Homo sapiens: one gene and its partners. The gene in region 2 interacts genetically with the main gene of each other region. Each region holds a gene or a part of one and is shown on either strand. Other genes may lie near its edges. The genes, in order: BAK1, HRK and BAD.

What was found.
Region 1: changes in HRK (region 2) and BAK1 together harm fitness more than expected from each alone (negative genetic interaction), as found in Homo sapiens cells (one large-scale study listed by BioGRID).
Region 3: changes in HRK (region 2) and BAD together harm fitness more than expected from each alone (negative genetic interaction), as found in Homo sapiens cells (one large-scale study listed by BioGRID).

Annotation. Positions count from the first base shown.
Region 1 is NC_000006.12:33,574,609-33,577,276, reverse strand, and holds part of BAK1 (bcl-2 homologous antagonist/killer), read left to right. Parts: intron 1-1,348; coding exon 1,349-1,484; intron 1,485-1,835; coding exon 1,836-1,979; intron 1,980-2,668. UniProt on the Homo sapiens protein: Plays a role in the mitochondrial apoptotic process. Upon arrival of cell death signals, promotes mitochondrial outer membrane (MOM) permeabilization by oligomerizing to form pores within the MOM.
Region 2 is NC_000012.12:116,871,830-116,875,532, forward strand, and holds part of HRK (activator of apoptosis harakiri), read right to left. Parts: intron 1-3,703. UniProt on the Homo sapiens protein: Promotes apoptosis.
Region 3 is NC_000011.10:64,269,250-64,272,120, reverse strand, and holds the end of BAD (bcl2-associated agonist of cell death), read left to right. Parts: intron 1-317; coding exon 318-508; intron 509-1,459; coding exon of another isoform or gene 1,460-1,462; exon of another isoform or gene 1,463-1,590; intron 1,591-1,783; coding exon 1,784-1,912; 3' UTR 1,913-2,291; downstream 2,292-2,871. Other genes in the region: integral membrane protein GPR137, read right to left, coding at 1,460-1,462. UniProt on the Homo sapiens protein: Promotes cell death. Successfully competes for the binding to Bcl-X(L), Bcl-2 and Bcl-W, thereby affecting the level of heterodimerization of these proteins with BAX. Can reverse the death repressor activity of Bcl-X(L), but not that of Bcl-2.

The DNA of each region.
Region 1 (2,668 bases), on a different chromosome or scaffold from region 2:
AGAGGGCTGGGTCACGGGCGAGGGAGGCAGGAATTAGAGTGGGGCCTGGCTGCTGTATCCCTCCAGCGGGAGAAATAAGGAAGTAAGCTGGCCAATCACCCAGTCAGGTCTGCTCAACAGGGAACGCAATTATTGTGACTTGGGGAGGAAGTAAGATGGCTGCCCTCCTTCCCTCTTCCCAGGGGATAGCCAGGGAAGCCCCAGCTCACACCTCACGGCGGGCTGTTCCCTGGACTTGGGAATCAGGTCCCAGGTCTGTCACTATCTCCCTGTGTGACTTTTCTGGGCCGCAGCTACAAATTCAGATTTTGTTTCCCACATTTCCCTGCACGCAAAGGGCTGCGGAGCTGAGATGTACTAATGTAGACTCAGGACCCCAAATGCCCGGGACTGTCCCGGTTCCCCGGCTTGTTCTGGCTGTATGACCTTGCACACGTTACTCAGACACCCTGTGCCATTTTCCCCCTGCCAGCTGGGGATTGCCTGCTCCCAGGGCTACTGTGAGGACTCAATGCAAGTGCCGGAACAACTCTCCACACAGCATAAGCTCTAGGGGCGGCTAAGGTGCTGAAGTAGGGATATTTCTTTTCTTTTTTTTTTTTTTGTTTTTTTTGTTGTTGTTGTTTTGTTTTGTTTTGTTTTTTGAGATGGAGTCTCGCTCTATTGCCCAGGCTGGAGTGCAGTGGCGTGATCTAGGCTCACTGCAAGCTCCAACTCCCGGGTTCACGCCATTCTCCTGCCTCAGCCTCCCGAGTAGCTGGGACTACAGGCGCCTCCCACCACGCCTGGCTAATTTTTTGTATTTTGTTTAGTAGAGACGGGGTTTCACCATGTTAGCCAGGATGGTCTCAATCTCCTGACCTCGTGATCCGCCCGCCTTGGCCTCCCAAAGTGCTGGGATTACAGGCATGAGCCACCACACCCGGCCATTTTTTTTTTTTTTTTGAGACAGAGTTTCGCTCTTGTTGCCTAGGCTGGAGTGCAGTGGCACGATCTCCGCTCACCGCAACCTCCGCCTCCCGGGGTCAAGTAATTCTCCTGCCTCAGCCTCTTCTTGAGTAGGTGGGATTACAGGCATGTGCCACCACACCCGGCTAATTTTGTATTTTTAGTAGAGACAGAGTTTCTCCATGTTGGTCAGGCTGGTCTTGAACTCCCGACCTCAGGTGATCTGCCCACCTCGGCCTCCCAAAGTGCTGGGATTATAGGCGTGAGCCACCGCACCTGGTTGGGATATTTCTTTCCATGGGTGAGGACAGCTATGGCCTTAGGAAGAGTGAATCCCCTATAAGGCATGGGGCTGCCAGGGTTCGGCCCTCTCTCCCTGACTCCCAGCTTTGATCCTCAGAGGAGCAGGTAGCCCAGGACACAGAGGAGGTTTTCCGCAGCTACGTTTTTTACCGCCATCAGCAGGAACAGGAGGCTGAAGGGGTGGCTGCCCCTGCCGACCCAGAGATGGTCACCTTACCTCTGCAACCTAGCAGGTGAGCTACAACCGCTGGGCCCACAAGGACATCTTCAGGGAGGCAGTAGCTCGCATGGGTCTCTGTGCAGGTCCTGGGAGCTGGGGAGGCCTCGGGGGTCTTGCCCTTCTCTCATGGTTGCTCCTCTTTTATGTTGGGCTCCCACCCCCATCCAGGACCTTGTATCCTTTTTAGCCCATGCCTGCCCCTTCTCCTGGAGCCCAGCACTCATGTCTTAGAACACTGTCAGGGACCTCCAAGAAGGGATGCACAGGGCCATGGACAGCTCAGGCAGAACCCCTCTGCCATGAGCCAGGGCCTGGTCCCGACTGCCTGGTTACTGGCTCACCTGCATGCCTCCTGCTCCTACAGCACCATGGGGCAGGTGGGACGGCAGCTCGCCATCATCGGGGACGACATCAACCGACGCTATGACTCAGAGTTCCAGACCATGTTGCAGCACCTGCAGCCCACGGCAGAGAATGCCTATGAGTACTTCACCAAGATTGCCACCAGGTACCCCAGCCACCTCCCTGCCAGCTCCAGTCACTCCTCTGTCATGTCACAACCATACCATACCCTGCCTGCATGATGCTCTCCTGGCATGGGGAGAAGCCTTCTGTCAGTGTCCAATGTCTGCTGTGAACTCACATGTGGTCTCGGCCCCCTATTTTTCTCTTTCGGGGTCCCAGACTTGTATTTTGGGCATTAGCTCACAGCTCTTTTGAGCTCTGACTCCAAGGTCTTGACTGGTTAGATCAGGACTCTAGAGGGGGCCTGAGGTGGGGACGTCCCCCACAGCTCCCCAGCCCAGCTGGGACATAGCTGTCCTTCATAGTTCCAATTTGAAACCACATATCACACTGAAGATGGTGAGGGTGCTAACCTCTGCCAGGTCCTAGAAATGGCTCCTACTTGCTATAATCTGGCATCCAAGTGGTTAAAGACACCGAATATTTGGGTGCAAATCCAAGCTTTGCCACTTACTGCCTTCGTGAAGCTTCCTAGCCCTTAGTCTCCTGGTTTGTAAAATAGGGAAAATATGCTTAGATTAGTGTCCACCTTACAAAGTGTTAGCCATTGCTACCACCAGAGTTAGGGAAGTCAGTGTCGGAGTAGATTTGAAACTGGAGGTGAAGGTAGGAGTAAGTGATAGATTTTAGAATTAGTGCTCAGAGCTGAAATATCCAGTCCGTGAACTTAGA
Region 2 (3,703 bases):
CACTTTGTTGCCCTGGCTAGTATTGAACTCCTGGCTTCAAGCAATCCTCTCACCTGTGAGCATTAAAAAAATTTGTTTTAATTAGTTCTTTTTTTTTTTTCTTTGAGATGGGGGTCTCACTCTGTTGTCTGCCCAGGTTGGAGTACAGTGGTGTAATTGTAGCTCACTACAACTTCGAACTCCTGGGCTCAAGTGACTTCACAATGATGGATGGGGAATGTAAATGATGGACTAACCAAATAAAGCAATACCAACCAACTTCTAAGCATGGTGGCTCACGCCTGTAATCCCAGCACTTTGGGAGGCCAAGGCAGGTGGATCACAAGGTCAGGAGTTCGAGACCAGGATGGCCAATGTAGTGAAACTCTGTCTCTACTAAAAATACAAAAATTAAGCCAGGTGTGGTGGCAGGCACCTGTAATCCCAGCTACTCGGGAGGCTAAGGCAGGAGAATCTCTTGAACCTGGGAGGTGGAGGTTGCAGAGAGATTGCGCCATTGCACTCCAGCTCAGGCGACAGTGTGAGACTTCATCTCAAAACAAACAAACAAAAAGAAGTGTCTCATAGAAAAATATTAAGCTGTTGAACAAATGCCTGTGATATATGGAAAAGGTCAGGTTACAGATAATATATTTATAGTGATTCCAAGTCTTAAAGTACCTATCCAGCCAGGAATGGTGGTGCACACCTATAATCCCAACACTTTGGAAAACCAAGGCAGGAGGTCTTGAGCTCAGGAGTTCAAGACCAGCCTGGGCAACATAGCAAAACCCTGTCTCTACAAAAAATACAAAAATTAGCCAGGTGTGGTGGCGTGCACCTGTAGTCTCAGCTACTCAGAAGGCTGAGGTGGGAGAGTCGCTTGAGCCCAGGAGGTTAAGGCTGCAGTGAGCTACGATCCTGCTACTGCACTCCAGCCTGGGTGACAGAGTAAGACCCCGTCTCAAAAAAACAAAGAGAGAGAGAGACAGAGACAGAAACAGAGAGAGACAGGAAGAAGGAGGGACGGAAGGAAGGAAGGAAGAGAGGGAGGGAGGGAGGCAGGCAGGGAGGGAGGGAGGGAAAGAAAGAGAGAAAAAGAGAAAGGAAGAAAGAAAGGAAAGAGAAATGGCAGAAAGAAGGAAAGAAAATCACATCACTAAAGGGTCAAATCTAATGCAATGGAAAGGTAGAAAGGCTTAGAATCTGTCTGGTCTTTACATGGGAAAGGACTGCAATCTTCTGCTACTCAGACCTTCTGCTCAAAGCTGAACCTCCTTTCTCCAGAGGCAAGACTACAATTTTCTTTTTCATTTTTTTGTTTTGTTTTGTTTTGTTTTGTTTTGAGACAGAGTCTCATTATGTCACCCAGGACAGAGTGCAGTGGCACAATCATAGCTCACTGCAGCCACAAAGTCCTGGCTCAAGCAATCATCCTGCCTCAGCCTCCCCAGTAGCTGGGATTACAGGCACATGCCACCACGCCTGACTACAATTTTCTTTTATTCAGCATTTTCCAAATAGTTGCCAATGAACTTGTCATATTTTTTGTCATCAAGAAAAAGTTATTTATTTTTCTGAGACAGGGTCTCATTCTCTTGCCCAGCCTGTAGTACAGTGGTACGATTATAGCTCACTATAGCCTCAGTCTCCTGGGCTCAAGCAATCCTCCTACCTCACTCAGCCTCCCGAGTAGTTGGTAACACAGGTGCAGACCACCATACCTCACTAATTTCTTATTTTTTGTAGAGATGGGGTCTCACTATATTGCCCAGGTTAGTCTCAAGTTCCAGGGCTCAAGCAATCTTCCCACCTCAGCCTCCCCAAGTGCTGGGATTACAGGCATGAGCCACCACATCCAGCTACTTTTTAAAAAAGTAATATTATATCAAGTTTCCCAGAGCAATTAAATTCCACCCTGCCCAAGTCTCTGGCCCATGGAGCAAAGGTTCAGTGTGGGAAAGCTCTGTGGAAAGCAGCCATCTTGGATAAGCCAGTTGCCTCCCCACAGGAAAAGGAAGGAGCTTTCTCCTTGCCTGGCCAACCAGAAGTCGTAAAAGGATGCAACTTATTGATGTGGGCTAAATCAGAAATCCCCCACCCAACAGCAGGGGCACCAGTTTAGAGCAGGAAAGGAGAGGGGAGCCAGTGCTGAGTTGAATGGTGAGAGTTCTAAGGGTGATGGAAACCCAATCGATGTCCACAATGTTCCCCTGGCACTGAGGGGAGTGGGCATGAGTGAGTTGGTTCAGGGATCAGGACCTCTCAGACCTTGGCAGGAGGTGAACTGGTTTATTTCTACTAAGAGGTGAGGGCAGGGGCAAAGCCTGGGTCTCCTGTCTCTGAAAGAGTCTGGGGTCACCTGAGGGCTGTGGCTGGGACTCATTCATCTCTGCATCCCTGCATCTGGGCACCCAGCCCTGGCACCAAGCTACACTGCTTGTTTTTCTTTCCTGAAACGTACTATGCAGTCTTACCTCCGGGCCACTGGACTTAGCTCTCTCTCTTCCCAAAACACCTTTCTCGCATGTCTTCATATAGCTGGCTCCTTTCTGTCATTCAAGTCCACTATTCCCCTGGTTCCTCTTCAAAGTGTCCTGCCTTCCCTCATCACCACAGGTGAGGAGTCCCTGGGGCACTCTCTATTGTGTTACCTTTGTGTATTACCTTCAAAGCCCTGAGGAGTTTCTAAAATTATCTCTGTGTTAGATTGCATAATCCAAAGGTGGCCACTAAAATATCTCCCATTCCACATGCTATTCTAGAACCTCACCACTCCCCCATGAGGTGGAGTCTAATTCCGCCCCACCTTGAATCTGTATCAGCTTGTGACTTGCTTCTGACCCAAGTGACTTTGGAAGCTGGGACAGAAAAAGCAAAGCAGCTTCCACCTAGTTCCCTGGGGTACTTGCTTTTGGAGCTCTCAGTCACTGTGTCAGAATCCGGCTGCCATGCTGTGAGGAAGCCCAAGCCACACGAAGAGGCTGAGTATAGCTGCTCCAATTGACAGCCCCAGCTGACTCCCAGTATTAACAGCCAGACATGTAAATAAGGTTGCCTCCCCACCCATGACTCCAGTCCCCAGCCATCCTGGAGCAGAGACAAGTCACCCCCACTATGCCCTGACCAAATTCCTAACCCACAGAATGTGTGAGCATGGTCAAATATGTCAGCCTTCCATATAGGTGAGTTCCACATCCATGGATTCAACCAACCTCAGATCAAAACTATTGGAAAAAAAAATTTAAAAATAACACAAGTATAAAAAACACACATAAAAACAATACAGTATAATTAGTTACATAGCACTTACATTGTATTGGGTATTATAAGTAATCTAAAGATGATTTAAAGCCTACAGTGTGTGGGTTATATGCAAACACTACACCATTTTATATCAAGGACTTGGCATCCTTGGATTTTGGGATCCAAAGTGGGATCCTGGAACCACTCCCGCCCAGAGACAGAGGGATGGCTCTAGTTGTTTGAAGCAAAACTTAGTAGTTTTGGAGTAATTTGTTACACAGAAGTAGTAACAAGAACAATATTTACTTATTGTCTGTCTCTTCCCACTAAAATGTGGGCTCCATGAAAGCAGGGAACTCTTATGTCTTGGTCCTTCCTGTATCCACAGTGCCCTATACACAGAAGGTACTCAATAATTAGCAGTTGTATAAGTGGAAGAACCTGAATTTGGGAAACAATAGTGACTATGTTGCATAGT
Region 3 (2,871 bases), on a different chromosome or scaffold from region 2:
TCTCGATCTCCTGACCTTGTGATGTAACTAGTATTTCTTATGCCCTTATTTTGTGCTAGGCACAGGGCCTCACCCATTATTGGCACTCGGTAAGGATTCGTGGGATTAATGAGAAGTTAACCTAAATCTTCACCAAAGGCCCCTGAGCTTCCCCTCGATTCACATACAAGGGACTGGGGCTCTGAGAGGTGGGCTGTGATGCGCCCCTGGAAGACCCACGAGTGGGCCTGCAGAGCTGATGGGGAGGGTTCAGGCAGGGCCAGGGGCTTAGAGGAGCTGAGATTAACGTCGCCCCCCTACCCACTGACCCTCTGCAGGCGCTGGGGCTGTGGAGATCCGGAGTCGCCACAGCTCCTACCCCGCGGGGACGGAGGACGACGAAGGGATGGGGGAGGAGCCCAGCCCCTTTCGGGGCCGCTCGCGCTCGGCGCCCCCCAACCTCTGGGCAGCACAGCGCTATGGCCGCGAGCTCCGGAGGATGAGTGACGAGTTTGTGGACTCCTTTAAGGTGAGCGCCAGTCCCCAGCGTGCCAGGACCTGAAGTACCAGGCCGCCCCCCGCCGGTCTGTCCCTGCCTTGTCCCAAGGCACGCCCGGATCTGGAGTCCCACGACCCCTCCCCAAAGCCGTCCTGTTCCTTCCTAGCTCCAGAGCATTCTGGGATTTGTAGTCACAAGACTTCCCCGCCCCCACTCCCCAGCTCTTCCCCCGCCTGGTGTGTGTGTGTGTGTGTGTGTGTGAGTCACAGGGCATGCTGGGATCTGTAGTCTAGATCCCACTCCAGGCGTGTGTGTGTGTGTGTGTGTGTGTGTGTGTGTGTGTGTGAGAGTCACAGGGCATGCTGGGATCTGTAGTCTAGATCCCACTCCAGGCGTGTGTGTGTGTGTGTGTGTGTGTGTGTGTGTGTGTGTGTGAGTCACAGGGCATGCTGGGATCTGTAGTCTAGATCCCACTCCAGGTGTGTGTGTGTGTGTGTGTGTGTGTGAGAGAGTCACAGGGCATGCTGGGATCTGTAGTCTAGATCCCACTCCAGGTGTGTGTGTGTGTGTGTGTGTGTGTGTCAGTCACAGGGCATGCTGGGATCTGTAGTCTAGATCCCACTCCAGGCGTGTGTGTGTGTGTGTGTGTGTGTGTGTGTGTGTGTGTCACAGGGCATGCTGGGATCTGTAGTCTAGATCCCACTCCAGGCGTGTGTGTGTGTGTGTGTGTGTGTGTGTGTGTCTCACAGGGCATGCTGGGATCTGTAGTCTAGATCCCACTCCAGGCCAAAGCTCCTGGGTTCCCCGAATTCTTGGAAGACCAGGCATGCTGGTATTTGTGCTCCTTGCTGGCACCTGTGCGCTCTGTCGCCCAGGCTGGAGTGCAGTGGTGCGATCACGGCTCACTGCAGCCTGGAACTCCTGGCCTCAAAGGATCCTCCCGCTTCAACCTCCCAAAGTGCTGGGATTACAGGCGCTCACCATCGCTCCCGGCCCTTTGATTCTCGAATTGCGGTCTCATCTTCTGGGTGCTAGGTCTCCAGCTCTGGCCTTTCCATTTAGGGCCCTAGGCATCCTCTCTTCCCGTCTCCGGCACGGAGTTCCTGGGATCTAACCAGTTCCCATTCCTGGGGGCCCATGCGTCCTCGCGAGCGTCCCTGACCGCCCGGCGTGGAGCCTCCTGGGAGTTGTGGCCTTCATTATCTCCCCCCCGATCTCACTTAGAGGAAGGCTCACGGAAGTGGAGAGCCTGGCTCGAGCTGCCATGGTAATCTAACTCATGTAACCCTTTTCTCCCTCCACCAGAAGGGACTTCCTCGCCCGAAGAGCGCGGGCACAGCAACGCAGATGCGGCAAAGCTCCAGCTGGACGCGAGTCTTCCAGTCCTGGTGGGATCGGAACTTGGGCAGGGGAAGCTCCGCCCCCTCCCAGTGACCTTCGCTCCACATCCCGAAACTCCACCCGTTCCCACTGCCCTGGGCAGCCATCTTGAATATGGGCGGAAGTACTTCCCTCAGGCCTATGCAAAAAGAGGATCCGTGCTGTCTCCTTTGGAGGGAGGGCTGACCCAGATTCCCTTCCGGTGCGTGTGAAGCCACGGAAGGCTTGGTCCCATCGGAAGTTTTGGGTTTTCCGCCCACAGCCGCCGGAAGTGGCTCCGTGGCCCCGCCCTCAGGCTCCGGGCTTTCCCCCAGGCGCCTGCGCTAAGTCGCGAGCCAGGTTTAACCGTTGCGTCACCGGGACCCGAGCCCCCGCGATGCCCTGGGGGCCGTGCTCACTACCAAATGTTAATAAAGCCCGCGTCTGTGCCGCCGAGGCTTTTCTGTGCGTCGACTGGGGCTCCGGCAGGCCGGGGTAGTGCTCTCACGGATACTTTCAAAAGAGGCCGCTGTCTTACGAGGGAAACTTAGGCTCTGCCTGACATCCAGCGACAGAGACGGAAGGGGTCGCGGCGGCTCGCGGGCCTGGGCTGCGCGGCCCAGGTCCAAGTCCCCAGCACGCGCATTGGGACCGCAGCGCTGCCGGCAGCCCGATCCCGCGCTCTGCAAACCGTGCCGCGGCCCCCCAGAGAGGGTCACTCGCTCCTATTTGGGTCAGCCCTTTCCAGCAGCTACTGTGTGGCCGGCCCGGGGCCAGCGCCGCCCGGGTACCTCGCGGGGCGGGAGGGAGCGGCTGAGCCAGGCTGGCAGCAGCGCGGTCGCTGGAAACTGAGGCTTCATGCGGGGACCCGGACAGAGCGGGGGCTCCGTTCCAGAAAGATTTATTGGCGCCCCCTATAACCCGGGCCGGTTCTTGGTGCCGGGCACAGAGATGCATTGCGCCACGGCCCTGCTCGCGGAAGCTCCCGAGGGCCCGGAATCGGCAGGGCAGTCAGAGAGGGCTTCAGGGAGGAG